Linked DNA regions of Homo sapiens. The protein of the gene in region 1 interacts with the protein of each later gene in a biochemical or structural test. Each region holds a gene or a part of one and is shown on either strand. Other genes may lie near its edges. The genes, in order: CDK1, EZH2 and RB1.

Region 1 (3,600 bases):
ATTAATCTACATCACCCAGCTCCTCCAACTCTGTTCCTGCTTTAACAGCCTGTTCTCTTTTACATATGTGCGGCATTCTCAACTACCAAAAATAGGGTTCTAGTCCACTCAGTAAGGCTAGACCAAGAAATTGAGCAAATGTAAAGATTTCCAAGTTGAAATTTATATTTGAAATAGCATGCAGAAAATGGCTTACATTCAGATATTACAACATACCTGACTATATTTGGATGACGAAGTTCCTTTAATAGAGAAATTTCCCGAATTGCAGTACTAGGAACCCCTTCCTCTTCACTTTCTAGTCTGATTTTTTTCATGGCTACCACTTGACCTGTAGTTTTGTGTCTACCCTTATACACAACTCCATAGGTACCTGAAACAAAGTAAATAATATGCTGTGTGACACACCCCACAAACTAAAGATCTTTTTTTCTTTTTTTTTTTCCTTATGGCAGGGTCTTGTTTTCTTGTCCAGGTTGGAGTGCAGTGGGTCAATCAAGGCTCACTACAACCTCCTCCTCCTGGGCTCAGGGGATCCTCCCACGGCAGCCTCCCAAGTAGCTGGGACTACAGGCACATGCCACCACACTCGGCTAATTTTTGTCTTTTTGGTAGAGATGGGGTTTCACCATGTTGCCCAGGCCAGTCTGGAACTCGTGAGCTCAAGCAATCTACCTGCCTCGCCGCCCCAAAATGCTGAGATTACAGGCGTGAGCCACCGCACCTGGTCAAACTAAAGGATTTCAAGATCATTGAATCCCATAAGGGTCACATGATAGAAATGTCTGGTGTGGCCATATGGGAAGTATCTTACTCATACCCTCATTGCTTCCAAAAAGAAATTGAGAGTAACTACAATCTGTATGGCTTAAAAATAAAATTCATGTAGTCATCACAAGTTTTCTATACATCTAAATTACCATTAATGTTCCAGCATATTTTACAGAACAAAATAGATCATTTGCAAATTAAAATTAACCTTCTGTCAATATCCTACCCTGCAACGAAGTGGGCATAAAATATAGTGTAAAAATTTGGGCTCAGGAAATATTACTGATAAAAGTCATTATGACACTTTCAGAAAATACTGTAGAGTGCTTTATGCTTTTCAAAACACTTTTATCTGTATCTCAAAATACAGTCAACAGTCCTCATTCTCAAAAGAATGGAGAAAAAAGACCAGGTGTTTGTGTATTAAACCTAATAAAGCACATTGTATGTACTACATATTAGGAAAGCCTCACACCCATTTGCAAGTTGATGAAAATACTGATTTTGATATATGGGCTTCAGGTAATGAGCAACAATATCAATTATAAGGGATAGCAGGGAGGGAGGAGGTGGATACAGGGAATGAAATGGCAATAAGGGAGAAGACTAGCTAAAATCTGTCATATACGTGGCTGAATTCCCTAGATAAGTCTTTTTAAACTCGAGTTGGAGTTTAGGGAGGTCCTGAACCCCTTAAGTACACACAAAATTTTGTTGAATAGCTTGCTTTCCATGGCATTGGTTTAACTTCAAAAGTGATTAGAGTGCACTGTTCTAGGAAGAAGGCCTCTTCTATAGCTTTTATGAGTTTCTCTGAAAGTAGCAATATTTTAAAAAAGGCTAACAACCAACAAATTACCAACTGCTTGGTTAAAAAATTAAGCAGTTTGAGCAGTAGCAAATTGATGCTACTTAAGCTTAATTTTTTTGACAGAACCTCTATACAAAAGTCTATGTTTTCTTAAATACTGGTGTCATTTTAAAACTATAAACTGACATGAGTCATTTTATACTATTTTGATTAAATTGTGGATTAATGTATAACTTTTTGATAACCAAAATTACTCTACATTAAAGGAGAATTGACTATATTTAATCCTCACAGCCATCCTTAAAAGTAGGCAACCTTCATATACTTAAAATCTACATTTTTTTGGATGTAAATTCAGCTCTCATTAAACACAAAAAGTAGGTAAACCAGTAGCACAATCATCTGGCATACTGTTTAAGTGATCTCAGGAAAATTAGTCACTTGCATAATACAGTCACATAAACAGTTAATGGTAAGTTCAGAACTAATTTTTTTTCTAGCATCCTTTCTTCTCCCTCAAGTGTACAATCTCATCTAATCCTAAATAATTTTCAGAATTAACAATTAACCAGTGGCCAACACTCAATGTGTTGAATTTTAGAGATAATATCACTTCTCACTGAACTACTGGAAGAGGGGTTAAACAAAGCAGAACTTTCTATTGGTTAATCATCCAAAATTATTTTTGAAATACATGGCATATCCTCCAAAATGAACTAAGAATTCTAAAGACAGAAATACTCTAGGGTATTTAACTAAGTATAAATAACTAAGGAGGCAAAAATCATTAACACAGGTAAGCCTAGAAGGAGATCAGTCTAAGTCTAATGGAAGATTTATCCCAGGAAACAAAAAGAAACAAAAGAAAAATATGTAGGATATGATCAAGTTATGGAGGCCCTTAAGCAGAAAACCTTCATTAAGCAAGTATTTATCAAATGCCTACTAAATGCCAGGCAAGGTTCCACCATCATGGATACTGCTACTCTATGATCCAAAAAGACATTTTCTTAAGACAGGAAGGATTTCAAAGATTAGTATCACAACACTCAGATTTCTGTAATTCAGAAGAAACCAGAGAACAATTTTTGTAATATTTAAAATAGTAAAGTCTGGAGGTATTTAAGAAATGAATTAGGTTGTCAAGACTCACTGTCAAGTGAGAGAAAAGGCAGAGACTGTTCTAAATCAGAATTAATGTCAATGAAAAAAATAAAAAATAATGCTAACATACATACAGATAATAAAGTAAACATGACAAAACACCAACATCTTGGTAAAAATATTACAAGTTCATTGCATAAATCTTTCAATATAGATTTGGAGATGTTCAAAATGAAAAGTTGAGGGGAAAAAATATAACTTTTAAAGTAGTATTTTAATACTAGACTTTAACCAGATACCTGGCAGAACCAAAAGAAAATTCTGTGTGAATCATTTAGGCCTCCATTTATTTCCACAAGTTCCTTTTTCCAAAACAATATCCAGCACATAATCCAAAACAATCAGGCATTGGAGTAGAAATGACAATACAAGCCAGAAAAAGAAACAACAGTGTTCAGAAGAGCAAACAAGGAAAACAGATGTTATTATTATCTATTTGGCTATCTCCTGTGGGTTGGGCACTACTGATAGGCAGTGGGCAAACAGTTGTGAACAAGACAAAAACCCCAGCCCTCAAGGATCCTATGGTATGATGCAAAGGGAACTACAAAATGCTCTTGGACTAGAGGAGGAGATAAAAAATGAAGCCAGTAGAAACTGGCCTCCAGGTAGAAAGAACAGCCATTGCCAAAACTCATAGGCCAAATCACAGGATACATTTGAGGACATCAAAGAAATCCAAATTAAGAGTTAAGTGGCATTAGATGGAGCTGGTGAAGAGATGGTTTTGGAGACAGTGTTCATAGTAATAATACAATGTTCAAATGATAAACATTTGAAGGTTTTCTGAGTTAAAGCGCTCATAACAAATGCTTTCCATAATATTGTTCAATTGAATCATATCTTTCGTGTTA
Region 2 (3,834 bases), on another chromosome or scaffold:
GGTACAGTTCTAAGGATTTCACATGTATCAATTCCTTTAATCCTCACAACCACCTTATCAGATGTTATCATTATCCTCACCAATTTACAGATAGGGATGCTAAGACATCAAGAGGATAACACCCCAGACACAAATTGGTAGCTCAGGGACTGGAACCCAAGAAACTGTCTCCAAAGACCACATCCTTAGAACTCTACTCTCCTCCCCTCTCAAATGCATACTATTACCACTCTGGCTGAGAAAGAAATCCTCAAAGTTAACCTTTAGTCTGTCTAGGGTTTCACACTGTACCTTCCATCAAACTACAATTACCTACTTTTAAATGTAACTTTCTGAATGATTCAAATAAACTCATTCTTCTCGGAGCTGACATATCTTTAATCACCCAGAAAGCCAGCAGATAACACAGAACAGATAATATGGAGTAGATAATATGTAGTGAAACAGAACTAAGTTTGGATCCCGAATGCAAATTCCCAGCTGAATAATCCTGGGCAAATTCTTAACTCCTCCCCTGTAGACAGTTTTCTTCAGTTTCCTCATCTGTAAAGGTTTTCGGAGTGTGTTATTAAATTTTGTATTCTGGTAAGATATATAGATATAGAGAGAGATATATATAGATACAGATACATATCGTGTAAAATTTACCATTTTAACCATTTTTAAGTGTACAATTCTGTGGCATTAAATATATTCAAAATATTGTTCAACCATCACTATTATCCATCTCCAGAATTTTTTCACCATTCCAAACAGAAACTCTGTATTCATTAAACTCCCCATTCACCTCTCCCCTCACAGCCCTGGTAACCTCTATTCTACTTTCTGTCTCCATAGAGTTGCCTCTTCTAACTACCTCATATAAATGAGATCATACAATTTTGTATTTTTGTACAAAAGGTTGTATCTGGCTTATTTCACTAAGCATAATATTCTCCAGCTCCATCCATGTATCAGAATTTCACTCCTTTTATGTCTGAATTATTTTGAAATCTTTTTACTTTTATTTTGAAATTTCACTCCTTTTACGTCTTTATTTCACTCCTTTTATGTTTTCATTGGTTTATATACCACATTTTGTTAATTCGCCTGTTGGCAGACACAAGGTGGTTCTTACAAATATTAAAAACAAAAGCTGGGTGCAGTGGGTCACACCTATAATCCCAGCACTTTGGGAGGCTGAGGTAGGTGGATCTCTTGAGTTCAGGAGTTCAAGACCAGCCTGGGCAACATGGCAAAACCCTGTCTCTACAAAAAATACAAAAATTAGCCAGGCGTGGTGGCATGCACTTGTAGTCCCAGCTACTTGGGAGGCTGAGATGGAAGGATCGCTTGAGCCCAGGAGGCAGAGGTTGCAGTGAACTGAGATCACGCATCTGCACTCCAGCCTGGGTGACAACAAGACCCTGTCTCCAAAAAAAAATTTTTAATTTAAAAATGTTTAAAAAGTATCCAGGCCAGGCGTGCGCAGTAGCTCACGCCTGTAATCCCAGCACTTTGGGAGGCCGAGGCAGGCGGATCATCTGAGGTCAGCAGTTCGAGACTAGCTTGGCCAACGTGGTGAAACCCCATCTCAACTAAAAATACAAAAATTAGCCAGGTGTGGTGGTGCGTTCCCGTAATCCCAGCTACTCGGGAGGCTGAGGTAGGAGAATCGCTTGAACCCAGGAGGCAGAGGTTGCAGTGAGCCGAGATCACGCCACTGCACTCCAGCCTGGGCAACAAGTGTGAGACTCCATATCAAAAAACAAAAACAAAAACAAAAAACAAAAACAAAAACAACACAGCAGGGTGTGGTGGCTCACACCTATAATCCCACCACTTTGGGAGGACGAGGCAGGTCAATCACTTGAGGTCAGGAGTTCCAGACCAGCCTGGCCAACACAGTGAAACCCAGTTTCTACTAAAATATAAAAATTATCGGAGGCTGGGCACAGTGACTGACGCCTGTAATCCTAGTACTTTGGGAGGCCAGGGCAGGTGGATCACCTGAGGTCGGGAGTTCGAGACCAGCCTGGCCAACATGGTGAAATCCCATCACTACTAAAAATACAAAAATTAGCCAGGCCTGGTGGTGCATGCCTGTAATCCCAACTACTTGAGAGGTGAGGCAGGAGAATCATTTGAACCCAGGAGGTGGAGGTTGCAGTGAGCCAAGATGGTGCCACTGCACTCCAGTCTAGGTGACAGAGTGACACTGCATCTCAAAAAAATAAATAATAAATAATAAATAAATAAATTAGCCGAGCGTGGTGGCGCACGCTTGTAGTCCCAGCTACTCAGGAGGCTGAGGCACAAGAATCACTTTCGAGACTCCGTCTCAAAAAAAAAAAGTATCTGGGTCAAACACAATGGCTCAGCCTGTCATCCCTGTACTTTAAGAGGCCAAGGCAGGAGGATTGCCTGGAGCCAGGAGTTTGAGATCAACGTGGGCAACAAAGCAGGATCCCATCTCTACAAAAAATTAAAAAATTAAATAAGTCACCACAATGGTGTGCACTGGTAATACCAGTTACTCAGGAGGCTGAGACAGGAGGATCCCTTGAGCCCAGGAGTTTAAGGATGCAGTGAGCTATGATCTTGTTCTGTCTTGCTATTGTTAATGGAAAACAAGACCAATTATTAAGAAACTGCTAACCACATAATCTAAACACAAATTTGTCATATTTTTATACCAAGTAGTGGAACAGTGGCAAGATATGGAATGGTGCAACTATCTTAGAAATTTACCAGCTGTAACTTTTGAGGTATCACTAAATTTGCTAATCTGTATTTAAATCATTTTAAAAGAATGATGAAAAGCATCCCAATAAATGATCCAATTACACTGTCGCTACATCCTTCAGTTTTAGCTCCAAAACCTACCTCAATTTACTCCAATAAAGAACTCATGAATTATAACAAAACAGCTTTTCAGTTAAAAGATCTACTACCCTCTCTCGCCCTTTCCCTTCCTTATATTTTTGCAAAGAGATCATCAATATCAACATTAAATCAAATTAAGCAAATACTATTACTAAATATCCAGATGATTCATCAAGTTCTCTCCAGTTGTCCGAGTGTAATAGTTGCATCTAAAGGATATCTAATGTTTAGTACTACAGATTATAACTAGGAAAAACTTGGAACTTGTTCACCTTGACAACTATTTTTCTTTGTAATCATTCCCTATTAAAGAGGGAGAAAAACACATTTCAAAGTTCCTCACATGAATACTAACATATCCTGTTCACTTTGCAAGTTCCTTTGTCAAATTATTTCCCTACATTTTTCATATTTCCTTAATTCATTCAACTATATTTAAAACCCCTATTCTCTAGCAAATACCAACGTAGGTACTAGGTATACAAAGAAAAAAATAAGACAGAGCCTCTACCAGGAGGCACTTTGACTGTAGGGAAGAGAGGGATGCATAAACAAGTGATTACAATACAATTGAGTCATGCTACAATAAAATATGATAAAACCCTGTGGGAACACAAGAGTGGGAATTCAGGGAAGACCTCCAGAAGGTAAAGTATGTATCATCTGACCATGAACCTTTCTCTGAATTTAATGAATTGCTGCTGTTCACTTATGCTCTCCCCCGAAGATTTCACCTACTCATATAGAATCTATCATGATTTACAGAAAATTTGTCATCTATACTGATATAAAGACTTCAAGGCTAATCCATAAATCATTGCTAATTAACCACAGAATACATTATATTGGAGGATTTGTCCTTGTTGGTTTTTAAAAAGCAGATCAACTTTCTCAATCACTGCTCATGTAAAGGGTAATACTGAAATAAATTCAGAATCCTTGAGCACACTACCTCAAAAGAAGGAAGGT
Region 3 (3,834 bases), on another chromosome or scaffold:
CTACAATCTCAAAGGTCTTCGGAGGGATTTCAAAAAGTACCTTTTTTGGATTCAGTATACCAGTATACTCAGAAGAGAAGCCTAGTGAAATATTATCCCCAAGATGGCCTCAAATAACTCAAATAAGCCTCTTAAATGGCTTATAATGACCAATTACATTCTTCAGTATATAGTGATCTAAAATAAGCATTCCTTCTCCTTAACCTCACACTATCCCTCTCCCCCGACCAAAGAAACACACCACATTTTAACTTTAAATTGAACAAAAGTGTTTATTTATGAAAATTTAACTTACTGCTATATGTGGCCATTACAACCTCAAGAGCGCACGCCAATAAAGACATATGAAAAATGTTGTCATTCAGAAGTTTGCTAAAGGAAAAAAAAAAAGATTATAAAATACTTACTTCTATAAAAAGAAAAAAATTTTTTACTAAAAGTAAAAAATTTACCTAAAATTTTGAATGGATAATCGTTCTTCTTCCTGAAACAGATAATTTAAAAAAAAAAAAAGAAGTTGTTTAATTGAAACCTTATTTGTGTCAGCATTGAATTTTTTTTTTTTTTTTTTTTTTTTTTAGATGGTGTCTTGCTCTGTTGCCAGGCTGGGGTGAAATGGCACAATCTTGGCTCACTGCAACCTCCACCTCCCTGGTTCAAGGGATTCTCCTGCCTCAGCCTGCCAAGTAGCTGGGACTACAGGTCTACACCACCACGCCCAGCTAATTTTTGTACTTTTAGTAGAGACAGGGTTTCACCATTTTGGCCAGGATGATCTTGATGCCTTGACCTCCTGATCTGCCCACCTCGGCCTCCCAAAGTGCTGGGATTGCAGGCGTGAGCCACCGCGCCCGGCTGAAATTTTTTTATATTGTTTTTAACTTACTGATTTAAGCATGGATTCCATTACTCGGTAATACAAGCGAACTCCAAGTTTGTATCGCTACAAACAAACAAAAAGAAAAATAAGAGCCTGCTATTTTAGAAAATCACAATTATGAAATTTTTTTTTTTTTTGAGATGGAGTCTCACTGTTTTGCCCAGGCTGGCCTTCACACTCCTGGGCTCAAGAGATCCTCCTGCTTTGGCCTCCCAAGAGGCTGGGATTATAGGCATGTACCACTATACCCAGCTGACAATTACTAAAATTTTTTAAAAAGCCTTTTCTTAAAACATACTTCTCACCCTTCTTACAAATATGGCCGCCAAGACAACACAAAAGCTAGCTTGTCTAAAACTCACAACTTAAGTATTAAGTGGTGATTAACATTCCCAAGTAAATTAACAAGAGGGTAGGTCCAGTACCTGGATTTCCTTAACTCCATTTCAGTTTATATCATTCATACTAAAGATAGGTTATGTGCCCAGTACTATTTTAAGCACTTTATGTACCTTATATAACATTTCTCATGACCTAGGACATGTATTTTCAAGATAGCTGTCCAGGATTAAGAGGACAGTCTTTGTCCATAAATTTAGTAAAACTGACACAGGCAAAAATCAGATCAAACTGACCTTATGAGCAAGAAGTTTTAGCCAAATAACTAGTTCCCATTATTTGAAAGAATAACCAAATTTTAGAAATATAAACACACACCATATTATTTCCTTCCAAACTAAGAGCAAAAATCTCATATATAATCATGCACCGCATAACAACGTTTTTGGTCAATAACTGACTGCATATCTAACAGTAGTCCCATAAGATTATAATGGAGCTGAAAAATTCCTATTGTTTAGTGTAATGTAGTGCAATGCATTACATTACTCACATCTTTGTGATGATGCTGATGTAAATAAACCTATTGCACTGCCAGTCATATAAAAGTATAGTACATACAATTATGTACAGTACATAATACTTAATAATGAACATGTTACTGGTTTATGTATTTATTATACTATACTTTTTATTAGTTTAGAGCATCCTCCTTCTACTTGTAAAAAAAAAAAAAAGTTAAATGTAAAACACCCTCAGGCAGCTCCTTCAGGAGATATTCCAGAAGATAGCATCATCATCATAGGAGTTGACAGCTCTATGCATTTTATTGTCCCTGAAGACTTGGGACAGAATTTGGAGGCAGAAGACAGTGGTATTGTTAATCCTGATCCTGTGTAGGCCTAGGCTAATGTGTGTGTTTGCCTTTGTTTTTGGCAAAAATCTTTATGAAATTGAAAAAATTTTTAAATAGAAAAAAGTGTACAGAATAAGGATTATAAAGAAAGAAAATATTTTTGTACAGCTGTATAAGGTGTTTGTGTTTTAAGCTAAGTGTTATAAGAGTCAAAAGTTTCTTACAAACTGAAGATTTATAAAGTAAAAAAGTTACAGTGAGCTATGGTTAATTTACTACTGAAGAAAGAAAAAATGTTTATGAAATTAGTTTAGCCTAAGTGTAGTATTTATAAAGTCTACGATAGTGTACAGTCATGTCATAGGTAATATTGTAGGCCTTCACATTCACTTGCCACTCGACTCACTGACTCATTCAGAGCAACTTTCAATCCTGTAAGCTCCTTTCATAGTAAGTGCTCTGTGCAAATGTTCCATTTTTTATCTTTTGTACTATATCTTTACCTTTTCTATGTTTGGATATATTTAGATACACAAATGGTAACACATTATGTTACCATTACCTACAGTATTCAGTACACATGCTGTAGAGGCCTGTAGCCTAGGAATGAATAGGCTATATCATACAGCTTAGATGTACAATCGGCTATACCATCTAGGTTTGTACAGACACACTCTACCAGGTTCACACAACAAAATTGCCTAATGATGCATTTGTCAGAACATATCCCTGTTAAGTGGTGCATGGCTGTAGAATCAAAAAGAACCATTAAATATCAATGTTTAAAACACTGATGGCATCAAAATATAACCTCACTACACTGAAATAAATGTGTACAGTGGACTCCAGTTTTCCAATATATTTTTGTATATTATCCTCATTAATGCCACACAACAAAGCAGAGCAAATATAGAACCTGAATCTCAGAGAAGTTAAATGACATGTCCAAGATCAACAATGGTAGAACCAAATATAAACCCAGGGCTGTCACTCCATGGCCCATACTCTTACCTATTATATTAGCTTTAGATTTCCTGAAATAATATCACTCAATAATATCACTGACAAATGGCATGTATAGTCCCATTCACATTAGGATATGCATACATGAACAGTCATACATGTAGAAGTCAAAGCAAAATCAAAAATTTAATATCAAAGATTTCAATTTTTTTCTTAGTTGTATTTTCCAAAATTTCTACAATGGCTATGTGTTCCTTTATTACATAGTTTTTATAATGGGGTGGGAGGTAGTTTTCCATAAAGTTACCCATAAATAGCAGCATACACAGGCAGCAGGGATATAGTATCTGACAGTATTTTATACTACTAGACAAATACTGTTAGAGTATTTATACGAACTGGAAAGATGCTGCTTTTAATATTATTACTCTATAGTACCACGAATTACAATGAATTCAAGTTACCTGTGATCCAATTTCGACACAACCCTGTCCCACAGCTTTAGCAAATTTCTCTTTAAAGATGTATCCTATATCCTTCACTCTTTTCAGTATACTTTCTTTTGGATTCACTGTGCAGTTCTTTAGGAGGTAAAAACAGAAATCAATGTCGAGGATACTGTGTAATCAGAATTAATATTTTCTGCTCCATAATATATGACTTTTTAAATTGTTCATAAAAATGTGGAAACACTTCCATAATAACTAGGTAACCACAACTACTGAACATAAGCAGACAATATCATTTCACTGGATGTTAATGAGCAAAAAATACTACAGTACAACTAAAAAACCCT

Evidence for each region.
Region 2: of the proteins of CDK1 (region 1) and EZH2, one has a biochemical effect on the other in vitro, tested with the Homo sapiens proteins (5 studies listed by BioGRID).
Region 3: of the proteins of CDK1 (region 1) and RB1, one has a biochemical effect on the other in vitro, tested with the Homo sapiens proteins (8 studies listed by BioGRID).

What each region holds. Positions count from the first base shown.
Region 1 is NC_000010.11:60,781,478-60,785,077, reverse strand, and holds part of CDK1 (cyclin-dependent kinase 1), read right to left. Parts: intron 374-3,600; coding exon 217-373; intron 1-216. UniProt on the Homo sapiens protein: Plays a key role in the control of the eukaryotic cell cycle by modulating the centrosome cycle as well as mitotic onset; promotes G2-M transition via association with multiple interphase cyclins.
Region 2 is NC_000007.14:148,877,484-148,881,317, forward strand, and holds part of EZH2 (histone-lysine N-methyltransferase EZH2), read right to left. Parts: intron 1-3,834. UniProt on the Homo sapiens protein: Polycomb group (PcG) protein. Catalytic subunit of the PRC2/EED-EZH2 complex, which methylates 'Lys-9' (H3K9me) and 'Lys-27' (H3K27me) of histone H3, leading to transcriptional repression of the affected target gene.
Region 3 is NC_000013.11:48,376,703-48,380,536, reverse strand, and holds part of RB1 (retinoblastoma-associated protein), read right to left. Parts: intron 3,620-3,834; coding exon 3,503-3,619; intron 944-3,502; coding exon 887-943; intron 703-886; exon of another isoform or gene 663-702; intron 485-662; coding exon 453-484; intron 373-452; coding exon 296-372; intron 1-295. UniProt on the Homo sapiens protein: Tumor suppressor that is a key regulator of the G1/S transition of the cell cycle. The hypophosphorylated form binds transcription regulators of the E2F family, preventing transcription of E2F-responsive genes.